Linked DNA regions of Homo sapiens: region 1 is linked to region 2. The links come from fine-mapping of genetic effects on gene expression. A gene starts in region 2. The other region holds a variant in brackets. All regions are shown on one strand. Distances are between the middles of the regions. Region 1 has its middle 85 kb from the start of MIR4693. Region 2 holds the start of PDGFDDN (PDGFD downstream neighbor).

The links.
Region 1: its variant is fine-mapped to the expression of PDGFDDN in ovary (GTEx, PIP 0.92).

What each region holds. Positions count from the first base shown.
Region 1 is chr11:103,758,931-103,770,377 of GRCh38, reverse strand. No RefSeq gene overlaps it. Among named protein-coding and RNA genes, the nearest start is that of MIR4693, 85 kb to the left of the region's middle. The variant A/G (reference allele first, on the strand shown) is at 5,317.
Region 2 is chr11:103,900,435-103,911,881 of GRCh38, reverse strand. It overlaps PDGFDDN (PDGFD downstream neighbor), which reads left to right and starts at 5,012. Exons shown (of 4, transcript XR_947960.3): 1 at 5,012-7,202. PDGFD (platelet derived growth factor D) reads left to right here. Exons shown (of 7, transcript NM_025208.5): 7 at 2,063-4,693. The coding sequence ends at 2,188. RefSeq lists enhancers at 7,152-7,321, 7,742-7,831.

The DNA of each region.
Region 1 (11,447 bases), 140 kb after region 2:
ACTTAAAAATGAAAAAAAAAAAATCCTAGTTTGTGGGAGGTACAAAAACAGGTGGCAAGCCAGATTTGGCCCATGAGTTATAGTTTTCCAACTTGTGACCTATAATAGTAAATATCACGAAAGTTGGAACCTTGCTTATTTTTTTAATGGTATATCTTCAGACTTAGACTGATGTGTGACATATATATAGCAGCAGCTCAGAAACATATTTGTTAAAAGAATAAATTGATTAATGAATGAAGTAAGCAATTTCAAAGGAACACTTTACAAGTGAAATTGCAGATCTTCAGCTAAATTGAAGATCAGCTTCCTGGGTGAGCAACCTGGGCAGTCACAGAGGGCCCTGCAGTCAGAAGGGCCTCGTGCATGGTTTAATGCTCTGCTGTCCCTGTCTTGAAATGTTTAATACTTTTTGAAGAAGGAGTCCCATGTTTTCCTTGGGCACTGGGCCCCACAAATTATGCATCCAGTCTTAAACTTCTACATGCAATAACCAGGTGTGTAACACTAATATTCCTAATCCAGCAACAGCTAGAATGGGGACCCTGTGTGCTGCTAGTACAGAGTAGAATCTATTTCCAAAAAACGATCCTGGCAAAAAGTAGGCAGGAGACTAAATTTCCAAGCCAGTGGTAGAGGGTGTAGGTGGGTCCTGGCTTAGGGGACAGAAGAAGAATGTCAGGGTTTAGGCATACAGAGATTTGGCAGGGTGAAACAGTTGTCGGAGACCTTACTTGGGTTCCTTAGTTCTACACCTCCTCTGATTGAAATAAGGTAGGAAATAAGATGTTATACATTTATCTATTCATGTGCTTTCTTTTTCCTATAGATCCCCTGCCTTTGCTACGAATGATGCCAGAATGAGAACTATCCTGACTACCTCATGAGATTATTATAAGGCTGATTTAGATAATAATTAAATAATAGTTATGTAAGATAATGATTGTAAAGCTAAAGTATGCTACCACTTTTAGGACACTAATGAGACTAATGCATTTTGCTAAGCATTTTGCATGCATCATGTCACTCAATCCACACAACAACCAAACAGTAGGTCCGATTATGCTTCCATATAACCACTGAACAAATATAAAGCTCAGAGTGGTTATGTAACTTAATCTAGTAACATAGCTAGAAGTGGCAGACCTCAAATACAAGCTCGTGTCTCTGACTCCCAATTCATGTCTGTGATATGAATATCAATGATAAATCATGATGTTAATGTGGGATAGGAGATTTTATTGCTACTGCCTGGGGAGGGAACAGAAATGCCACTTATCTGCTAATCACCCTATGGAAAGAATAATAAAGCATGGAATGAACAAGCAAATAGCAAGAGCTCTTCAAAGAAAGTTGTCATTAACACTTTACAGAGAATAGAGGTAGGCTCCCCCAGGAAAAGTTTGCATAAATAGCCCTGGAGCAGCTGAGAAAGAGGAAATGAATGACATTCAATTAACTCCTAATTTGCTGTTGCAGTTTCTCCTGAACTGAGTTCACTCCAGAATTTACCAAGGGATCAGGCTGCTTAAGAACTAATTACAATGAATTCTCCATGAGCCTGCTGACAGTCTGTCCTTTCTATGTAAGTCCTGGGGTTGTTGCCAGCCAAAAAACCTTAGGCAAAGTTGTCTTCTTTTAGTAAAGGTTTTCCAGCCTCCCTTTAATTTTTACCAAGAAAAGCACAGCATATCAAGGCGTTAGACAGCTTTATTATTTCTCTTAATGTCAAGTTATCAAACCCCTTAGAAGCCTGGAGAGAGAGGCAGGTCATGGTGGCTCACACCTGCAATCCCAGCATTTTGGGAGGCCTAAATGGGCAGATGACTCGAGGCCAGGAGTTCAAGACCAGCCTGGCCAACATGTTGAAACCCTGTCTCTACTAAACATACAAAAATTAGCTGGGCCTGGTGGCGCATGCCCATAATCCCAGCTACTCAGGAGGCTGAGGCAGGAGAATCACTTGAACCTGAGAGGTGGAGGTTGAGTGAGCCGAGTTCATGCAGCCTGGGTGACAGAATAAGGCTCCATCTCAAAAAATAATAATAAAAGGACTCGAGGAGGACATAGGCTTGGTTCTATAAAGGAGAATTGTCTTGTTTCTTCAGTATCTTGGAATAAATTTGCTGGGACATCTGGGAAAAGCATTTCACTTCTTAGGGATTCATAAAAAATAAGGTGGCCTGTAAACTATGTGCTTAATGAGGAAGGGTGGCAGTACACAGAGTACAGGCAAATTATGTTGTCTACCTGTAGACCCTGTCCTCCCTTAGCTCAGTCCTCCACAGTCATGACACAAAGTGTACACCCATTCTCTCCCAAACTCATTTCCTGGCTAATCAGGCTATCACCTTCTCTGGCCTATCTTGTGCCTGTTAATTTGCACTCCTCACACTTTCCTCTTGCTGCCCTTCTTGACTGCTTTTCCAAAGTTATTCCCCACATTGCTACTTCCCCCCACAACTTCCATGCCTCACCAGGAAGCTGGCATCTCCAACGATGGTGCTTTCCTTACAGCCTTTTCAATGGCTATGGCTTCAGTTTCCATACTCCCTCTGTGTTGGGGGTGTCTGTCCTACTGGAATCTCACTGTGACTTCCAGACCATTGCTTTCCACACTCCTTCACCTTCACCCTCATTGTGAGATCAACCAATGATCCCCCTACCCATTTTTGTTCCAAGCCCCCTTCTAACCTACTGCTCACTCTCTCTATATATTCAAGAATTACATGTTTGAAGAAGTCAGTCTTCTTCTCCATCATCCTATATTATGTCAGTGTTCAACTGAATGAGATCACTTATGCCCAAATTCTTGCTATGGGCTAGAAATGCACAAGGTACATAAGGCTCACCCATGAAAGTTGTTAAAAATTCAAAATCCCTTGATTCACCCCAAACATTCTGAAAGAATCTTTTGGGATGGAGATTTAAAAGATGCTCTCTAGATAATTCTGCCCCACAGGCAGGCTTGGAAACCAATAGACTAGGCCAAACCCATAAAGGGCAGGAACGCTACTTTACCTTTGTATCTTCAGATGTAATAATAATAGCCAGAAATGGCTATTTAGGACAGGACACAATTCTATTGCATGGCAGGGACTCACTAAATGTGTGTTGAACTCAACTGAGTTGGGGAAATGAATGATATAACCAGAAGAACCCTAAGCTCACAATCCATTGATTTTATTTTTCATTTTGCCCTCTTCAGTTTAGAAATCTAGTAACATGACCATAGCCTGTATCTTTTCATTCCTTGGAAATACACCATCTTTAAATTCTTCAACTGAAAAAATTTCACTTACTAGACTTGACTCTCTAGTTTCACTTAGCAGTCATCTTTGAGACTTTTAAATTGAGTTGGTTCAGACCCACCCATTCCTGGTCTAATCCTGACCTGTGACTAGGAGCCTTCATTCCACCTATGAATGGAATGAGTTGTTTTGCTCTAGACCCAAGATTCTGAGTGCCTGGAGACAGGTCTGTGACTTGGAGGGTTCTATTACAGAGTCATGGCAGACACAATCTCTAGTAAAGCAAAATTTCCAATAATAGCCTTTACTATTTTGATCTTGTTCACATATAAGAACACCTGCTTCAGTTTCCCCTTTTGGTATCAAGATTCACCATGAGGCCTTAAGCAAATCCCTTGATCCTCACCAGATGGTAAATTGCCTCACTCATAAAAATGGCTATTATTTTTCCAAGAGCAATTATAGCAAAAGCAAAAATTGACAAATGAGATCTAATTATAAAAAGCTTCTGCAGAGCAAAAGAAACTATCAACAGAGTAAACAGACAACCTACAGAATGGGAGAAGATATTGGCAAACTATACGTCTGACAAAGGTCTGATATCCAGAATCTGTAAGGAACTTAAACACATTTACAAGCAAAAATCAAACAACCCCATTAAAAAGTAGACAAAGGACATGAACAGAGACTTTTCAAAAGAAGACATACATGCAGCCAACAAACATATGAAAATCTCTCAATATCACTAGAGAAATGCAAATCAAAACTGCAATGAAATACCATCTCACGCCTGTCAGAATGGCTATTTTTAAAAAGTCAAAAAATAACAGATGATGGTGACATTGCAGAGAAAAGGGAACGTTTATACACTGCTGATGGGAATGTAAATTAGTTCCACCATTTTGGAAAGCAGTGTAGTGATTCCTTAAAGAACTAAAAACAGAACTATCACTTGGCCCAGAAATCCCATTACTGGTTACATACCCAAAGAAATATAAATCATTCTACCATTAAGATACATGCACACGTATGTTCACTGGAGCACTATTCACAAGAGCAAAGACACAGAATCAACCTAAATGCCCATCAACAGTAGACTGGATAAAGAAATGCAGTACATATACATTATGAAATATTATGCAGCCATAAAAAAAGAACAAGATCATGTCCCCTGCAGGAATATGGATGAAGCTAGAGGCCATTATCCTTAGCAAACTAGTGTAGGAACAGAAAAACCAAATATCACATGCTCTCATTTATAAGCAGGAGCTAAATAATGAGAACCAATGGGCACAAAGAAGAGAACAACAGACACTGGAGCCTACTTGAGGGAGGAGGATGGCAGGAGGGAGAGGATCAGGAAAAATAACTGTCAGGTACTTTGCTTAGTACCTGGGTGACAATATATTTATATATATTTATTTATATATTTATATATATAAATATATATATATGGCTATTATTTTTTCATTAATGTTGTCAGGATTAATTGAGAGATTTGTGAAACCAAGATGCACAGTGCCTGGTGTATAGCAAGTGCCCAATACATGTTTACTGGCATGCCTGTCTTCCTTCCTTCCTTCCTCTCTTCTTTCCTTCCTTTCTTCTACCTTGTTTCTTTCTCCCTCGCATTTGAGGTCATTTCTAAAATATAAATATTATCATGATTGCTATACACAATAAGTTCATTTGTCATTTGTCATTGTTAACTTACAGTTAAGCAATACTGTAAGTAGGTATAACATTGGCCAAGATATTTTGGAATTATTTATTCATACAAAAATTATTACTAAAGAGAAAAAATTATTACTAAATTATTACTACAAAAATGTTATAACTAATACATTTTAGTAAAAAATTATTACTAAAGAGAAAAAATTCATAAAAGTAGAATTAACCTAATGTTAATTGCCCCTGACCAGAGAGAGGTGAAGCCATATTTAGATCTGGAGGAAGAAATAGAGAAAAGAGAAATAATTAGGTTGAAAACTGCTTCTTACTAAATCATAACTGTGCTTAAAATATTGGCAACTAGGGACAAAACCAAAGGCCTGTGCTCCTAGCC[A/G]CCATCCTAAGTCCTGCAAGCATGGATCTCTATCAGAAGTAAGGATTTGGGAAGTTGAAGGGCAATGATTAGGTGACAGTGCCAGTGATGGCATCTGCCTCTCTCTCAGGGATTCACTCTTACTTGACAAAACAAGATATTTTAAAAATTATCTTTTCCATTCTCTGTCTCTTCCCTCCCAGTAAAGCAAAATGGTGCAAATGGTAGCCAGGGACACTGGAAGCAACTTCTTCACCTTTCCATTTCATTCTTTGTTGTACTTTCACAATGCACCTCTTCTGGGACTATTCCCATAACTAGCTATGCTGTAGGTCCTGGACAAACTTTTTCTCTCAACATTTATCTGTTTTGGCCTTTTCTGTGCTATTCTGGGAGTGTTCTGGATTTGTCTTTTTTTCCATACATCAATAGTGAAATTTAAGATTCCTGTGTGATCTTATAATTAATCAAGTTGGAAACCATGGCCTTCTTTGGTTCTAGGTAGTTAACCCTAGTTAGATAAGGAAGAATGTGTCTTTCCTGTATTCTAGCCTCTCTTATTAAAGTTCAACTTAAAGATCTGGGACCAAATCTCTAATTAATAACAAAATATCACCTTTACTTTCTTTTTCTCCCCTGGGCACGAATCTCCTTCAGGAACCTCTTATACAGGAAGGAAGATTAAAACAAGGCAAGACTTGGGTATTCCTGAGTCTTCTTTCTATCACTGTGTTAATGCCATGTCAAGATACCATCTTTTAGTATCACGTTTACAATTTTACCTCAAATTTTATGTCTTTACTGGAAACTCTATAACATAAACAATACTGTAAGTAGGTATAACATTGGCCAAGATATTTTGGAATTATTTATTCATACAAAAATTATTACTAAAGAGAAAAAATTATTACTAAATTATTACTACAAAAATTTTATAACTAATACATTTTAGTAAAAAATTATTACTAAAGAGAAAAAATTCATAAAAGTAGAATTGCAACTTCTGGATAAAGAAGACAGTTTGACTATAGCGTTAACTTTGCCCTCTAAAATCTCACTAAAATGACTATAAAAGAAAAAATAATGTCAGAGGATAAGAAATCATAAAATAAATATTTTATACTATGTAAAATAAAAATTTAAAGGGAATATTTTCCCAAATTACAGGACAAGAATTTCCAGATTTAAGGAACCCATTGTTTGCTCAACTCAGTGAATAAACATAAACCCATACTGAGCCACATCATCATGAAGTTTCCAAACAACAGGGAAAAGAAGAAAACTCCTTCAAAGAGCAAAAAATAGGCCCCAGGCAAATGATCAGGAATTAAAATGACTTCAGACTTCTTAATAGCACACTCAAATATTAGAAGGCAGTAGGTAAATGCCTTCAAATTCTGAAAGAAAATTATTTTTAAACTAGAATTCTATAGCCAGCCAAATTTTTAATCAGGTTGATGAGTAGAATACATAATTTTTGAGGAATGCAAAGTCTCCAACAAAATTGCCTTCCTGAATCCTTTCTCAGAAAGTTAATAGAGAATGTGTTCCATCCCAGGAAATTAAGTGGAAAGACAATAAGTGGGAGACATAGGATATAGAAAAGAAAAAATACAACATAGGCAAGAAGGCAGAGAATCTTCTGGATTATCATGAGAATTCCCAGAATGGCAGCTCAGCCTCAAGCCCAAAGACAAAGCCAGGATGGAGCAGGTCGGGAGAAACTGTTCTGGGAAGTAAAATTTAATCAACATCTCTAAATATTTTCAGAGGAGCTTAGCAAGGAGTAGGGGAGTGGATAAGTAACTTGTCTGTGGGAAAATAAGCAAAAATAAACAAAACGGGCAAAAAATTGTTAACTAAAGGGAAGATTAAAGGTGTTAGCGAAGTAGCAATGCAAACATCTTTTTAAGAGACCTAATCAACTAAAAGAGAAGAAAGTGGTTGCTCCTGGGAAGAGGTAAGTAGGGGAAAGACAGTTGTGCTATTTTCTTTTTTTAAACAATCTTGTAGAGTGAATTGACACTTTATGTGCCTATATAATAAAAAATTTTAAACTTAAACCAAAATATACTATATATTTCAATAAGAAGCCCAGTCCCAGAGTAGACAAGGAAAGTTCCAGGTATACTTGTGGTGTCACATTCTGAGCTGTCCTTGCTGGTACTTTCCTATCTGGTAACTAAAGGTTCCCCCATTTCAGCAAGGGATATTTATGAAAGTTATTGGGACTTCCAATGATAACTTATATAGTATTTGAATTATAACAAGTGTCTTAAAGTATGCACGCTTAATATTTTAAAAAATCACTTTGATATGAAAAATAATAAAACATTTTCACATATTTATAAATATATAAAATATTTATTAAAAATACCCAAAAATCTGGTACCAAAGTAGTCTTTCCCAGGAAGAGGAATTAAGAGGATAGGGCCTGGGAAGGAAGAGACTTCTTTTTCTTTTTTTTTCTTTTCATTTATTTATTTTATATATATATATTTTTTATTATACTCTAAGTTCTAGGGTACATGTGCACAACGTGCAGGTTTGTTACATATGTACACATGTACCACGTTGGTGTGCTGCACCCATTAACCCGTCATTTACATTAGGTATATCTCCTAATGCTATCCCTCCCCTCTACCCCAACCCCACAACAGGCCCCAATGTGTGATGTTCCCCTTCCTGTGTCCAAGTGTTCTCATTGTTCAATTCCCACCTGTGAGTGAGAACATGCGGTGTTTGGTTTTTTCTCCTTGCGATAGTTTGCTGAGAATGATGGTTTCCAGCTTCATCCATGTCCCTACAAAGGACATGAACTCATCATTTTTATGGCTGCCTAGTATTCCATGGTGTATATGTGCCACATTTTCTTAATCCAGTCTATCATTGTTGGACATTTGGGTTGGTTCCAAGTCTTTGCTATTGTGAATAGTGCCGCAATAAACATACGTGTGCATATGACTTTATAGCAGCATGATTTATAGTCCTTTGGGTATATACCCAGTAATGGGATGGCTGGATCAAATGGTATTTCTAGTTCTAGATCCCTGAGGAATCGCCACACTGACTTCCACAATGGTTGAACTAGTTTACAGTCCCACCAACAGTGTAAAAGTGTTCCTATTTCTCCACATCCTCTCCAGCACCTGTTGTTTCCTGACTTTTTAATGATTGCCATTCTAACTGGTGGGAGATGGTATCTCATTGTGGTTTTGATTTGCATTTCTCTGATGGCCAGTGATGATGAGCATTTTTTCATGTGTCTGTTGGCTGCATAAATGTCTTCTTTTGAGAAGTGTCTGTTCATATCCTTCCCCAATTTTTGATGGAGTTGTTTGTTTTTTTTTTCTTGTAAATTTGTTTGAGTTCTTTGTAGATTCTGGATATTAGCCCTTTGTCGGATGACTAGATTGGAAAATTTTCTCCCATTCTGTAGGTTGCCTGTTCACTCTGATGGTAGTTTCTTCTGCTGTGCAGAAGCTCTTTAGTTTAATTAGATCCCATTTGTCAATTTTGGCTTTTGTTGCCATTGCTTTTGGTGTTTTAGACATGAAGTCCTTGCCCATGCCTATGTCCTGAATGGTATTGCCTAGGTTATCTTCTAGGGTTTTTATGGTTTTAGGTCTAAGATTTAAGTCTTTAATCCATCTTGAATTAATTTTTGTATAAGGTATAAGGAAGGGATCCAGTTTCAGCCTTCTACATATGACTACCCAATTTTCCCAGCACCATTTGTTAAATAGGGAATAGTTTACCTATTTCTTATTTTTGTCAGGTTTGTCAAAGATCAGATGGTTGTAGATGTGTGGTATTATTTCTAAGGGCTCTGTCCTGTTCCATTGGTCTATATCTCTGTTTTGATACCAGTACCATGCTGTTTTGGTTACTGTAGCCTTGTAGTATAGTTTGAAGTCAGGTAGTGTGATGCCTCCAGCTTTGTTCTTTTGGCTTAGGATTTACTTGGCAATGCAGGCTCTTTTTTGGTTCCATATGAACTTTAAAGTAGTTTTTTCCAATTCTGTGAAGAAAATCATCAGTAGCTTGATGGGGATGGCATTGAATCTATAAATTATCTTGGGCAGTATAGCCATTTTCACGATATTGATTCTTCCTATCCATGAGCATGGAGTATTCTTCCATTTGTTTGTATCCTCTTTTATTTTGTTGAGCAGTGGTTTGTAGTTCTTGAAGAGGTCCTTCACATCCCTTGTAAGTTGGATTCCTAGGTATTTTATTCTCTTTGAAGCAATTGTGAATGGGAGTTCACTCATGATTTGGCTCTCTGTTTGTCTGTTATTGGTGTATGAGAATGCTTGTGATTTTTGGACATTGATTTTGTATCCTGAGACTTTGCTGAAGTTGCTTATCAGCTTAAGGAGATTTTGGGCTGAGACGATGGGGTTTTCTAGATATACAATCATGTCATCTGCAAACAGGGACAATTTGACTTCCTCTTTTCCTAATTGAATACCCTTTATTTCTTCCTCCTGCCTGATTGCCCTGACCAGAACTTCCAACACTATGTTGAATAGGAGTGGTGAGAGAGGGCATCCCTGTCTCGTGCCAGTTTTCAAAGGGAATGCTTCCAGTTTTTGCCCATTCAGTATGATATTGGCTGTGGGTTTGTCATAAATAGCTCTTATTATTTTGAGATACGTGCCATCAATACCTAATTTATTTAGAGTTTTTAGCATGAGGAGCTGTTGAATTTTGTAAAAGGCCTTTTCTGCATGTATTGAGATAATCATGTGGTTTTTGTCTTTGGTTGTGTTTATATGCTGGATTACATTTATTGATTTGCATATGTTGAACCAGCCTTGCATCCCAGGGATGAAGCCCACTTGATCATGGTGGATAAGCTTTTTGATGTGCTGCTGGATTCTGTTTGCCAGTATTTTATTGAGGATTTTTGCGTTGATGGTTCATCAAGGATATTAGTCTAAAATTCTCTTTTTTTGTTGTGTCTCTGCCAGGCTTTGGCATCAGGGTGATGCTGTCCTCAGAAAATGAGTTAGGGAGGATTCCCTCTTTTTCTCTTTTTCTCTTTTTTTTTTTTTTTTTTTTGAGATGGAGTCTCACTCTGTTGCCCAGGCTGGAGTGCAGTGGCGCAATCTCGGCTCCCTGCAAGCTCCGCCTCCTGGGTTCACACCATTCTCCTGCCTCAGCCTCCCGAGTACTTGGGACCACAGGCGCCCGCCACCACGCCTGGCTAATTTTTTGTATTTTTTAGTAGAGACAGGGTTTCACCGTGTTAGCCAGGATGGTCTCGATCTCCTGACCTCATGATCCACCCACCTCGGCCTCCCAAAGTGCTGGGATTACAGGCGTGAGCCACTGCACCCGGCCGATTCCCTCTTTTTCTATTGATTGGAATAGTTTCAGAAGGAATGGCAGCAGCTCCTCCTTGTACCTCTGGTAGAATTCAGCTGTGAATCCGTCTGGTCCTGGACTTTTTTTGGATGGTAAGCTATTAATTATTACCTCAATTTCAGAGCCTGTTATTGGTCTATTCAGAGATTCAACTTCTTCCTGATTTAGTCTTGGGAGGGTGTATGTGTCAAGGAATTTATCCATTTCTTCTAGATTTTCTAGTTTATTTGCATAGAGGTGTTTATAGTATTCTCCGATGGTAGTTTGTATTTCTGTGGGATCGGTGGTGACATCCACTTTATCATTTTTTATTGCATCTATTTGATTCTTCTCTCTTTTCTTCTTTATTAGTCTTGCTAGTGGTCTATCAATTTTGTTGATCTTTTCAAGAAACCAGCTCCTGGATTCATTGCTTTTTTGAAGGGTTTTTTGTGTCTCTATTTCCTTCAGTTCTGCTCTGATCTTAGTTATTTCTTGCCTTCTGCTAGCTTTTGAATGTGTTTGCTCTTGCTTCTCTAGTTCTTTTAATTGTGAAGTTAGGGTGTCAATTTTCGATCTTTCCTGCTTTCTCTTGTGAGCATTTAGTGCTATAAATTTTCCTCTGCACACTGCTTTAAATGTGTCCCAGAGATTCTGGTATGTTGTATCTTTGTTCTCATTGGTTTCAAAGAACATCTTTATTTCTGCCTTCATTTCATTATGTGCCGAGTAGTCATTCAGGAGCAGGTTGTTCAGTTTCCATGTAGTTGAGCGGTTTTGAGTGAGTTTCTTAATTCTGA
Region 2 (11,447 bases):
ACTGATATCCTTTCTTCTGCTTGATCGATTTGGCTATTGAAGCTTGTGTATGCTTCATGAAGTTCTTGTCTTGCGTTTTTCAGCTCCATCAGGTCATTTATGTTCTTCTCTACACTGATTATTCTAGTTAGCAATTCATCTAACCTTTTTTCAAGGTTCTTAGCTTCCTTGCATTGGGTTAGAACATGCTCCTTTAGCTCGGAGGAGTTTGTTATTACCCACCTTCTGAAGCCTACTTCTGTCAATTCCTCAAACTCATTCTCCATCTGGTTTTGTTCCCTTGCTGGCGAGGAGTTGTGATCCTTTGGTTGAGAAGAGGAGTTCTGGTTTTTGGAATTTTCAGTGTTTCTGCACTGGTTTTTCCCCATCTTTTTGGTTTTATTTACCTTTGGTCTTTGATGTTGTTGACCTTCAGATGGGGTCTCTGAGTGGATGTCCTTTTTGTTAATGTTGATACTATTCCTTTCTGTTTGTTACTTTTCCTTCTAACAGTCAGGCCGCTCTGCTGCAGGTCTGCTGGAGTTTGCTGGAGGTCCACTCCAGACCCTGTCTCCTGTATGAAATGTCTATTGGCCCCTAATGGGAGATGTCTCCCAGTCAGGATACATGGGGGTCAGGGACCCACTTGAGGAGGCAGCCTGTCCCTTATCAGAGCTCAAATGCTGTGCTGGGAGATCCGCTGCTCTCTTCAGAGCCTCCAGGCAGGAATGTTTAAGTCTGAGAAGCTGCACCCACAGCCACCCCTTCCCCCAGGTTCTCTGTCCCAGGGAGATGGGGGTTTTATCTATAAGTCCCTGACTGGGGCTGCTGCCTTTCTTTCAGAGATGACCTGCCCAAAAAGGAGGAATCTAGAGAGGCAGTTTGGCCACAGCGGCCTTGCTGAGCTGCGGTGGGCTCCGCCCCATTCAAACTTCCCAGTAGCTTTGTTTACACTTTGAGGGTAAAACCGCCTCGCCTACTCAAGCCTCAGCAATGGCAGACGCCCCTCCCCTCACCAAGCTCAAGCATCCCAGGTCAATCTCAGACTGCTGTGCTGGCAGGAGAATTTCAAGCCAGTGGATCTTAGCTAGCTGGGCTCCATGGGGGTGGGACCCACTGAGCCAGACCACTTGGATCCCTGGAGTGAATGGTTCTGTCTTGCTGGCATTCCAGGCGCCACTGGGGTATGAAAAATAAACTGCTGCGGCTAGCTCGGTGTCTGTCCAAATGGCCGCCCAGTTTTGTGCTTGAAACCCAGGGCCCTGGTGGCATAGGCACTGGGGGAAATCTCCTGGTCTGCCAGTTGCAAAGACTATGGGAAAAGTGCAGTATCTGGACTAGAGTGCACCATTCCTCCTGGTACAGTCTCTCATGGCTTCCCTTGGCTGGGGGAAGGAGATCCCCCACCCCCTTGCACTTCGCGGCTGAGGGGACACCCCACCCTGCTTCAGCTCACCTTCCGTGGGCTGCACCCAATGTCTAACCAGTCCCAGTGAGATGAACTGGGTACCTCAGTTGGGAATGGAGAAATCACCCGCCTTCTGCATTGATCTCGCTGGGAACTGCAGACCAGAGCTGTTCCTGTTCGGCCATCTTGCCAGCAACTCCAGGGCAACATGTTTTACTTCAACCAAAGATTTAGATATACCAGCATATTTTATTCATGGTTGTATTCATTTTCCTCTCCATGCTAATAATATGCTCAAGTATTGTATTCATCTATAACACATGCCTTGGTCAGAAGGATCTTTACGATAATATTTGGAACAGTACTTGGCCCAAAGCAGGCCCTTAGAAAGCTATTAATAAATACCTGCTAAGACACATGAAATCATCTGGGTACTTCAGGTAAGTTATGCTGGGCATTACTCTGGGATCAATTGATTCCTCCACTTCAGGGAGTCAATTATTTGAAAAATGTGTACATTCTAATAGCAACGTGTGCATTCTAATAGCAAGCCCATAGCTTCTGTTGGGTTCTCAAAGGGCTAAGAACTAGTTGTCAAAAAGGTAATAAGTAGGTGGCATCTGACTGAGTTGAACTCCAAAGGCTTTCTAACAGGAGATGTGCTTCTTGTCCTAGGTATTACAGTTTGAGCCTGGCCACATCAAGAGGAGGGGTAGAGCTAAGACCATGGCTCTAGTTGACATCCAGTTGGATCACCATGAACGATGTGATTGTATCTGCAGCTCAAGACCACCTCGATAAGAGAATGTGCACATCCTTACATTAAGCCTGAAAGAACCTTTAGTTTAAGGAGGGTGAGATAAGAGACCCTTTTCCTACCAGCAACCAAACTTACTACTAGCCTGCAATGCAATGAACACAAGTGGTTGCTGAGTCTCAGCCTTGCTTTGTTAATGCCATGGCAAGTAGAAAGGTATATCATCAACTTCTATACCTAAGAATATAGGATTGCATTTAATAATAGTGTTTGAGGTTATATATGCACAAACACACACAGAAATATATTCATGTCTATGTGTATATAGATCAAATGTTTTTTTTGGTATATATAACCAGGTACACCAGAGCTTACATATGTTTGAGTTAGACTCTTAAAATCCTTTGCCAAAATAAGGGATGGTCAAATATATGAAACATGTCTTTAGAAAATTTAGGAGATAAATTTATTTTTAAATTTTGAAACACAAAACAATTTTGAATCTTGCTCTCTTAAAGAAAGCATCTTGTATATTAAAAATCAAAAGATGAGGCTTTCTTACATATACATCTTAGTTGATTATTAAAAAAGGAAAAATATGGTTTCCAGAGAAAAGGCCAATACCTAAGCATTTTTTCCATGAGAAGCACTGCATACTTACCTATGTGGACTATAATAACCTGTCTCCAAAACCATGCCATAATAATATAAGTGCTTTAGAAATTAAATCATTGTGTTTTTTATGCATTTTGCTGAGGCATGCTTATTCATTTAACACCTATCTCAAAAACTTACTTAGAAGGTTTTTTATTATAGTCCTACAAAAGACAATGTATAAGCTGTAACAGAATTTTGAATTGTTTTTCTTTGCAAAACCCCTCCACAAAAGCAAATCCTTTCAAGAATGGCATGGGCATTCTGTATGAACCTTTCCAGATGGTGTTCAGTGAAAGATGTGGGTAGTTGAGAACTTAAAAAGTGAACATTGAAACATCGACGTAACTGGAAATTAGGTGGGATATTTGATAGGATCCATATCTAATAATGGATTCGAACTCTCCAAACTACACCAATTAATTTAATGTATCTTGCTTTTGTGTTCCCGTCTTTTTGAAATATAGACATGGATTTATAATGGCATTTTATATTTGGCAGGCCATCATAGATTATTTACAACCTAAAAGCTTTTGTGTATCAAAAAAATCACATTTTATTAATGTAAATTTCTAATCGTATACTTGCTCACTGTTCTGATTTCCTGTTTCTGAACCAAGTAAAATCAGTCCTAGAGGCTATGGTTCTTAATCTATGGAGCTTGCTTTAAGAAGCCAGTTGTCAATTGTGGTAACACAAGTTTGGCCCTGCTGTCCTACTGTTTAATAGAAAACTGTTTTACATTGGTTAATGGTATTTAGAGTAATTTTTTCTCTCTGCCTCCTTTGTGTCTGTTTTAAAGGAGACTAACTCCAGGAGTAGGAAATGATTCATCATCCTCCAAAGCAAGAGGCTTAAGAGAGAAACACCGAAATTCAGATAGCTCAGGGACTGCTAACAGAGAACTACATTTTTCTTATTGCCTTGAAAGTTAAAAGGAAAGCAGATTTCTTCAGTGACTTTGTGGTCCTACTAACTACAACCAGTTTGGGTGACAGGGCTGGTAAAGTCCCAGTGTTAGATGAGTGACCTAAATATACTTAGATTTCTAAGTATGGTGCTCTCAGGTCCAAGTTCAACTATTCTTAAGCAGTGCAATTCTTCCCAGTTATTTGAGATGAAAGATCTCTGCTTATTGAAGATGTACCTTCTAAAACTTTCCTAAAAGTGTCTGATGTTTTTACTCAAGAGGGGAGTGGTAAAATTAAATACTCTATTGTTCAATTCTCTAAAATCCCAGAACACAATCAGAAATAGCTCAGGCAGACACTAATAATTAAGAACGCTCTTCCTCTTCATAACTGCTTTGCAAGTTTCCTGTGAAAACATCAGTTTCCTGTACCAAAGTCAAAATGAACGTTACATCACTCTAACCTGAACAGCTCACAATGTAGCTGTAAATATAAAAAATGAGAGTGTTCTACCCAGTTTTCAATAAACCTTCCAGGCTGCAATAACCAGCAAGGTTTTCAGTTAAAGCCCTATCTGCACTTTTTATTTATTAGCTGAAATGTAAGCAGGCATATTCACTCACTTTTCTTTGCCTTTCCTGAGAGTTTTATTAAAACTTCTCCCTTGGTTACCTGTTATCTTTTGCACTTCTAACATGTAGCCAATAAATCTATTTGATAGCCATCAAAGGAATAAAAAGCTGGCCGTACAAATTACATTTCAAAACAAACCCTAATAAATCCACATTTCCGCATGGCTCATTCACCTGGAATAATGCCTTTTATTGAATATGTTCTTATAGGGCAAAACACTTTCATAAGTAGAGTTTTTTATGTTTTTTGTCATATCGGTAACATGCAGCTTTTTCCTCTCATAGCATTTTCTATAGCGAATGTAATATGCCTCTTATCTTCATGAAAAATAAATATTGCTTTTGAACAAAACTACTCCATTATTTAGTACTCAATTGCAGTTTTAAAAGGTGTACACTGCTAAAAAAGAAAAAAAAAAAGAAAAGAAAACTTCCAGCTGGACGCGGGGGCTCAAGCCTGTAATCCTAGCACTTGGGGAGGCCGAGGGGGTGGATCACACGGAGATCGAGACCATCCTGGTCAACATGGCGAAACCCTGTCTCTACTAAAAATACAAAAATGAGCCAGGTGTGGTGGTGGGCGCCTTTAGTCCCAGCTACTCAGGAGATTGAGGCAGGAGAATCACTTGAACCGGGAGGCAGAGGTTGCAGTAAGCCGAGATCACGCCACTGCACTCCAGCCTGGGCTGCAGAACAAGACTCCTTTCAAAAAAAAAAAAAAGGAAAACTTTTTTTCACAAATGCATCAAACTGTTTGGAATGACAAGATTGAGTGATTTCTGAAGGCTTCATTTTATAATGCCCGAAAGAACAACACTTTGTTCCCCAATTACAGGCTTCTGTTCTGTCTTTGTCCTGCAGCTGCACAGTGGGGCAAGACTTGGGTTTGGTTTTGTTGCTGCTTTGTTGCTTCTTCATTTGACTGTTTCCCCATGAGTCTTATAATGAATTATGTTCTCCTCTGACATTGTTCCTCACCTAAGAAAATCCACAGCTGTCTCTTCCTTGAGGCCTGAAGTCAACAACATTACAACCTCATTTCCCTTTTATCCACCTCCTTTTCCCATCTGGGTGGACACCCCAGCCAACTAGTGATTCAGTGTTATCAGTTCAGACAGACCAGTTTAGGAGCTACACTCCTATATCATTTGCTTTGTAATTTGTGAAGAGGCACATAGCATAAAGAGAGCTCTTCTAGCTGCAATGCACATGCAAGAATTTTTGCTTTTGATTATAGCCTAATCTTTATATCATCCTGCTGGAGACAAAATAGCAGCTGCAGTGTTGAATGAAACTCTGCCATTTTAGTGGTTTTAGGTCATTTGGGGAATGGGAGTAAAGACCTGTATTCTGTGGCAAGAATTAATTTTACCATCAGAAATACTAGCTAGTGTGTGAGCATGGGAGAGGGATGGGGACAGGGTCGAATAATTCTGTGCCTAATAGCTAATTCAAGTAACTGGGGTTTTTAGGTAAAAAGTCATAATAGTAATATATATATGTATATATATGTGAATATATGTGTATATATGTATGTATATATGTTGCATTTTAATACAAAGACATTAAGAATTTTATTTCATTTCCTGAAATGTTCACATGTCCAGTTTTATTCTGAGAATAACTCAACAGATGTCTAAATTGTTGATACTCTCCTAGGTTCCTCATAGAATATTAAATTAAAATTCAATAGATTAGTATTCATGCCTGAAGTCCTAGGAAATATAATTTTGTTTATTGGCAGCCCTAGTCAAACATGCTAGAAGACAGAATATTTATAATTCACTGGTTTTATTGACATTCACTCAAATTCTGTTGTTTTTAAAGATCAAGTTAAAGACTACACAGACCTTCAAAACTTAGCATAGCACAACTGGGATATCTCTCAAATAAAATAGGCATCAACAAGGGATAAGCAACTAACCACTTAATGTAAGACTTTATGCTTGCTTTTCCAGTTATATTTCTGAATTTTGCAAACTAATTTGTGTCCTTTTTTTGAATAAATTTCATTTCTATAGAGATGTCTAAAAATTATTTAGCAGACTACATTAAAAGAGAGTGGAGCTAACTTCTTAACATAGGTTAATATACTCAGTGCAACAAGCTGTGGACCAAGAAATCTTCATTTTCTAGCAAAATCATTTGACTTTGTGATTATTTTAAACTGTTTATACTTATTGCCAGGTTTAGTGACCAGAAACCAAATGTTAAAATCATTCTTGGATTCAATTTACATTTTAAATAATACCTACAATACAAGTTCCCTTTTAAGAACTAAGGTCTCTAACCTGTTTCTGGTTGAGGTCATAGTATAAATTTCTCCTCTTCAGGCCTTCTAGTGTCTTTCTAGACTTTCCTTTCTCCCTGTGTCTCCCACAGGCTTCCTTTCTCACCTGCCTCTACTTGTCAGTCTTCAAATCAGAGAAAATCAGGATCAATATCTGCTTTGGGAAAGACAGGAGATAGATCAGTCGAGGAGATCAACTGCATGGTTACCCAAGTGAGCAATTAATAGGGTAAAATTCCCAACTGCTTTAAGAAATCACTGCTTTTTGAGAGTCAAACACATCAGGTGCATATTTTTCAGTACTGTCCACTTTGGTGCAAACTTCAGGATATGGTGGTAGATATTTGTTGACTTCTGTCAATAGAAATTTAGCCACAGTCAATATGGGGAAAATTGACTAAATTACATGTTTCATTCATTCATTCAACAGCAAATACATTAAAGCCCGCTATGTATCAGACATGCTTTGAGGCTTGAAACACAAGATTCACAACAGAGGATAAAACTAGAGAAAGATATTCTAGGTAAGATCAACAGGAAGAACAAAGGTCTCCCAGCAAAAATGCATAAGGTAAGTGTGGGCAGTTCAGAAAATATAAAGTGATCGAAAGGAAAGAAAAGGAAACTGTAGGCAAATGAATTTAGTCTTTTACATTTAGTAAAGGAAGCTCCATGAGGACCTCTGAGCACAGTGGGGGCTGTATGTGTCATAGAGCACCAGACAGAAAGTTAGAAGGTCTTGGTTGTAGTGACTAGCCTGCCACTTTCTAAACCTATGTTTCCTCATTTACACACTCAGATATGTAAGATGTTCTGGAGGTGTCTTCCGGCAGAACAATTCTGCAATTCTGCATTTTCGAAAATGGGTCTACAGAAAGAGTAGGGATTGGGCTATGAGTTATGAGGCTCCTTGAAGTTCTAGGGGTGAGACAATAAGGATAAAGCGAGACTTCAGAGACAGGAAGGGAAGTTTGCCCCTGTGGTTGTTCAGGCTGTGCACTACAAATCTCTAGGGGTTGCTATTTGCATGAACTAAGATGACAAGACAGGTTAAGAGGTTTCAAAGTTCTTTGTGGTTGGATGGGCTGGAGGTGCAGGCTTGGAGATCTCCTGTAGGAAGAAGTCATGTGAGTTCAAGAGAATTCTTGTGGGAAAACCAGGGAGGCAGGAAGGAGGGGTGAATTTTGCAAGCATGTCTCCAAGAAGAGGAGCCAGGTCTTGTAACATTGAAAGGGAGTCATTCTCAGGGTCAAAGCTGAAACCATAAGAAGATACACAGAACCTGAAAGACCTCCATAACCATTAAGAGGGAAGAAGACTAGTTTCTAAAGCTCATAAAAATGTGTTCTGAAAAGGTATTAAGTACTGACTGAGGGCTAAAGGTCCAGCCCTGTGCTAAATACAGCAGATTCACAGGAAAATAAAACAAACGTATTTCCTGCCTTTATCAAGCTAGAGAAGACATTACATGAGGCTAGAGAAGACTAGACACTAAACAAATAATTACATATGTAACCCAATACATTTGTGAAAAGCAAAAGCATAATGTGTGATGACAGTAAAAGGTGGAATCCAGATCAGAGGACAAGGAAGGGTTCTGTGAGAAGATGACATTAGAGCAGGAACAGAAAGTTGAATAAATGTTAGAAGCAAAGTGAAAGGAGAGTGTGACATTAAATGGTAGCAATAAAAATGAAAAAAAATCTAGCTATATTAAAGAAATAGTTTGAATCTTTAATTTATCAGAGTTGGGGATATATTAGACTGAGGCAAAAGAAGATAGAAGATAGCAAGGATTTTTCCAAGGCTTCTGGCATAACAAACTGTGCAGATAGAGGTGCCATTTATTGAGATGGGGGACATGCAAAGAGAAGGAGATTTAGGATAGATTAAGAATTCAGTGTGAGGTATTAATTCCAAGTGACATTTGATATATCCAATTGGAGATATTAAGTAGGCAGTTAGGTCTGTGGGTCTGGAGCTAAGAAGAAGGGTCTGAGACAGATGTAAATTTAGAAGTCAGCAATATACAGTGGTATTACAAAACACAGGAACAGTCCAGATACTTAGGGGAGGGTGAAAACTGAAAGGGGAAGAATCACAGGGCAATTGTGAGAATATAAAAATGTTCTAAGTGCCAGAGGAAGAAATTGTTGCAAAGAGTCTGGGTCAGTTTTATCGACTATGGCAGAGAAGGTATGAGAAACACCTACAGATTTATCTGCTCAGAAATACTCCTTTCTTTTATTTTTATTTTTATTATACTTTAAGTTTTAGGGTACATGTGCACAACGTGCAGGTTTGTTACATACGTATACATGTGCCATGTTGGTGTGCTGCACCCATTAACTCATCATTAACATTAGGTATATCTCCTAATGCTATCCCTCCCCCCTTCCCCCACCCCACAACAGGCCCCAGTGTGTGATGTTCCCCTTCCTGTGTCCATGTGTTCTCACTGTTCAATTCCCACCTATGAGTGAGAACATGCGGTGTTTGATGTTTTGTCCTTGCGATAGTTTGCTGAGAATGATGGTTTCCAGCTTCATCCATGTCCCTACAAAGGACATGAACTCATCATTTTTTATGGCTGCATAGTATTCCATGGTGTATATGTGCCACATTTTCTTAATCCAGTCCATCATTGTTGGACATTCAGGTTGGTTCCAAGTCTTTGCTATTGTGAATAGTGCCGCAATAGACATACATGTGGATGTGTCTTTATAGCAGCATGATTTATAATCTTTTGGGTATATACCCAGTAATGGGATGGCTGGGTCAAATGGTAAGAAATACTCCTTTCTAACCCTAATCTCTTTTCTGAGAGATTCCTCTTCATCTATAGCAGTATTGTCCAATAGAACTTCTTGCGATGATGGAGATGTTCTATATCTGTTCTAAGAGAGCAGCTAATAGCCACACTTGGCTGCTGAGCACTGGAAGCATGACCAGTGTGGCTGAAGATTTTTAAATTTTATTTAATTTTACTTAATATTTAAATATAAATTGCCACATGTGACAAGTGGCTACTGTATTAGGCTATGCAGTTGTAGATTTAATTATCACCCAGAGTTGTAGCCAGAATACTACACACTTCACAGTACCACACACACGTTCTAGTCACAGCCAGGGGCACCTGACTCAAGCTTTCTCAGGATGTATGGGCCTGAGGAGAGATTCAGACAGTCTCCTTGGTTATTTGGATGGTAGGATGTGAAAATCAATGGCTATTGGCAGCCATACTCTCTGCCATGTAGACTAAATATCTAGAGAAAGTTAAACTATAAAGGAAAAGAAGGAAGAAAGACACAAACACACAGAAAGTCCTGAGGGAGTCCCTCCTTCTCATTAGTTCTGATGTCTGGCCAAACCCGTCTCTGGTTCTCTGAGAATGTCATATGGTGGAAATGTGAGTCAGATGATAAGATATTTGGAGGGAGGAATTGTGATTACATGAAAATGCTGAGTGAAAACCACTATCTCAAGGAGTTGATAGGTGAGTGAAAAGAGAACTGCAGTTAGCCCTTTATATCCACAGGTTCCACATCTATAGATTCAACCAACAGCAGATGAAAGATATTTGGAAACATGAAAAATATAATACAACTATAAAAATAATAAAAACTGGCCAAGTTCAGTGGCTCACACCTGTAATCCCAACAATTTGGGAGGCCAAGGCAGGCGGATCACTTGAGGTCAGAAGTTTGAGACCAGCCTGGCCAACATGGTGAAACCCTGTCTCTACTAAAAACACAAAAATTAGGCATGGTGGTGCACTCCTGTAGCCCCTGCTACTCAGGAGGGCGAGGCACGAGAATCTCTTGAACCAGGAAGCAGAGGCTGCAGTGAGCAAGATTGCTCCACTGCACTACAGCCTGGGTGACAGAGCAAGACTCCATCTCAAAAATAAATAAAATAATTAATTAATTTAATTAAATAATAATTAAAACAGCACAGTATAACAACTATTTACATGGTATTTATATTGTGCTAGGTGTTATAAGTAATCCAGAGATGATTTAAATCGTATGGGAGGATGTGCATAGGTTATAGTAAACACTGCGCCATTTTAGATAAGGGACTTGAGCATCCCCAGATTTTGGTATCCTCAGGGGTCCTGAAACGAATCCCCTGTGGATATCAAGGGACAACTGTACATTAAATTATTGTTGTCTGTGGCACTTGTGTTCTATGAAGTTGCCAGATTCACTGAATTAGCAAATACTGTTTTCACTGCTGCTCAGAGAAATCCTGGCTTAGGGTTGTGCAAGCCTCTGGTCACATTTTCATCAACTTTCAGACGGTCCACCAGTCTACTTGGTTATTGTGTGCTTCTGGTTAAGAATTCTTTATTTAATATATATTGTTGATTCATTAAAATTGAACTCATGGCCAACAGCATTATAACCCATGCCTGAACCAAGCTTACCTAACACATATTTTTTTCCATAAGGTACTTCACAGCCTTATTGCATTTAGGAACACCAAAGAGCACTTCAGAACTATGCTTGGGAGCCATTTTAAATGGCAAAATCTTCAACAAAAAGCACAAAAGTGTTAAAAACATGGCAGTAAATCAACTGTGAAAAGGACACTCGTTTACAGTATGAGAGCTGAAACAAGAAGGCAGTGTCACCTTGTCCTTCCTCAGCTGGGAACATGAGTAACTCAATTTTACTCATGCTGCTGATAAAGACATACCTGAGACTGGGCAATTTACAAAAGAAAGAGGTGTATTGGATTTACAATTCCACGTGGCTGGGGAGGCCTCACAATCATGGAGGAAGGCATGGAGGAGCAAGTCACATCTTATGTG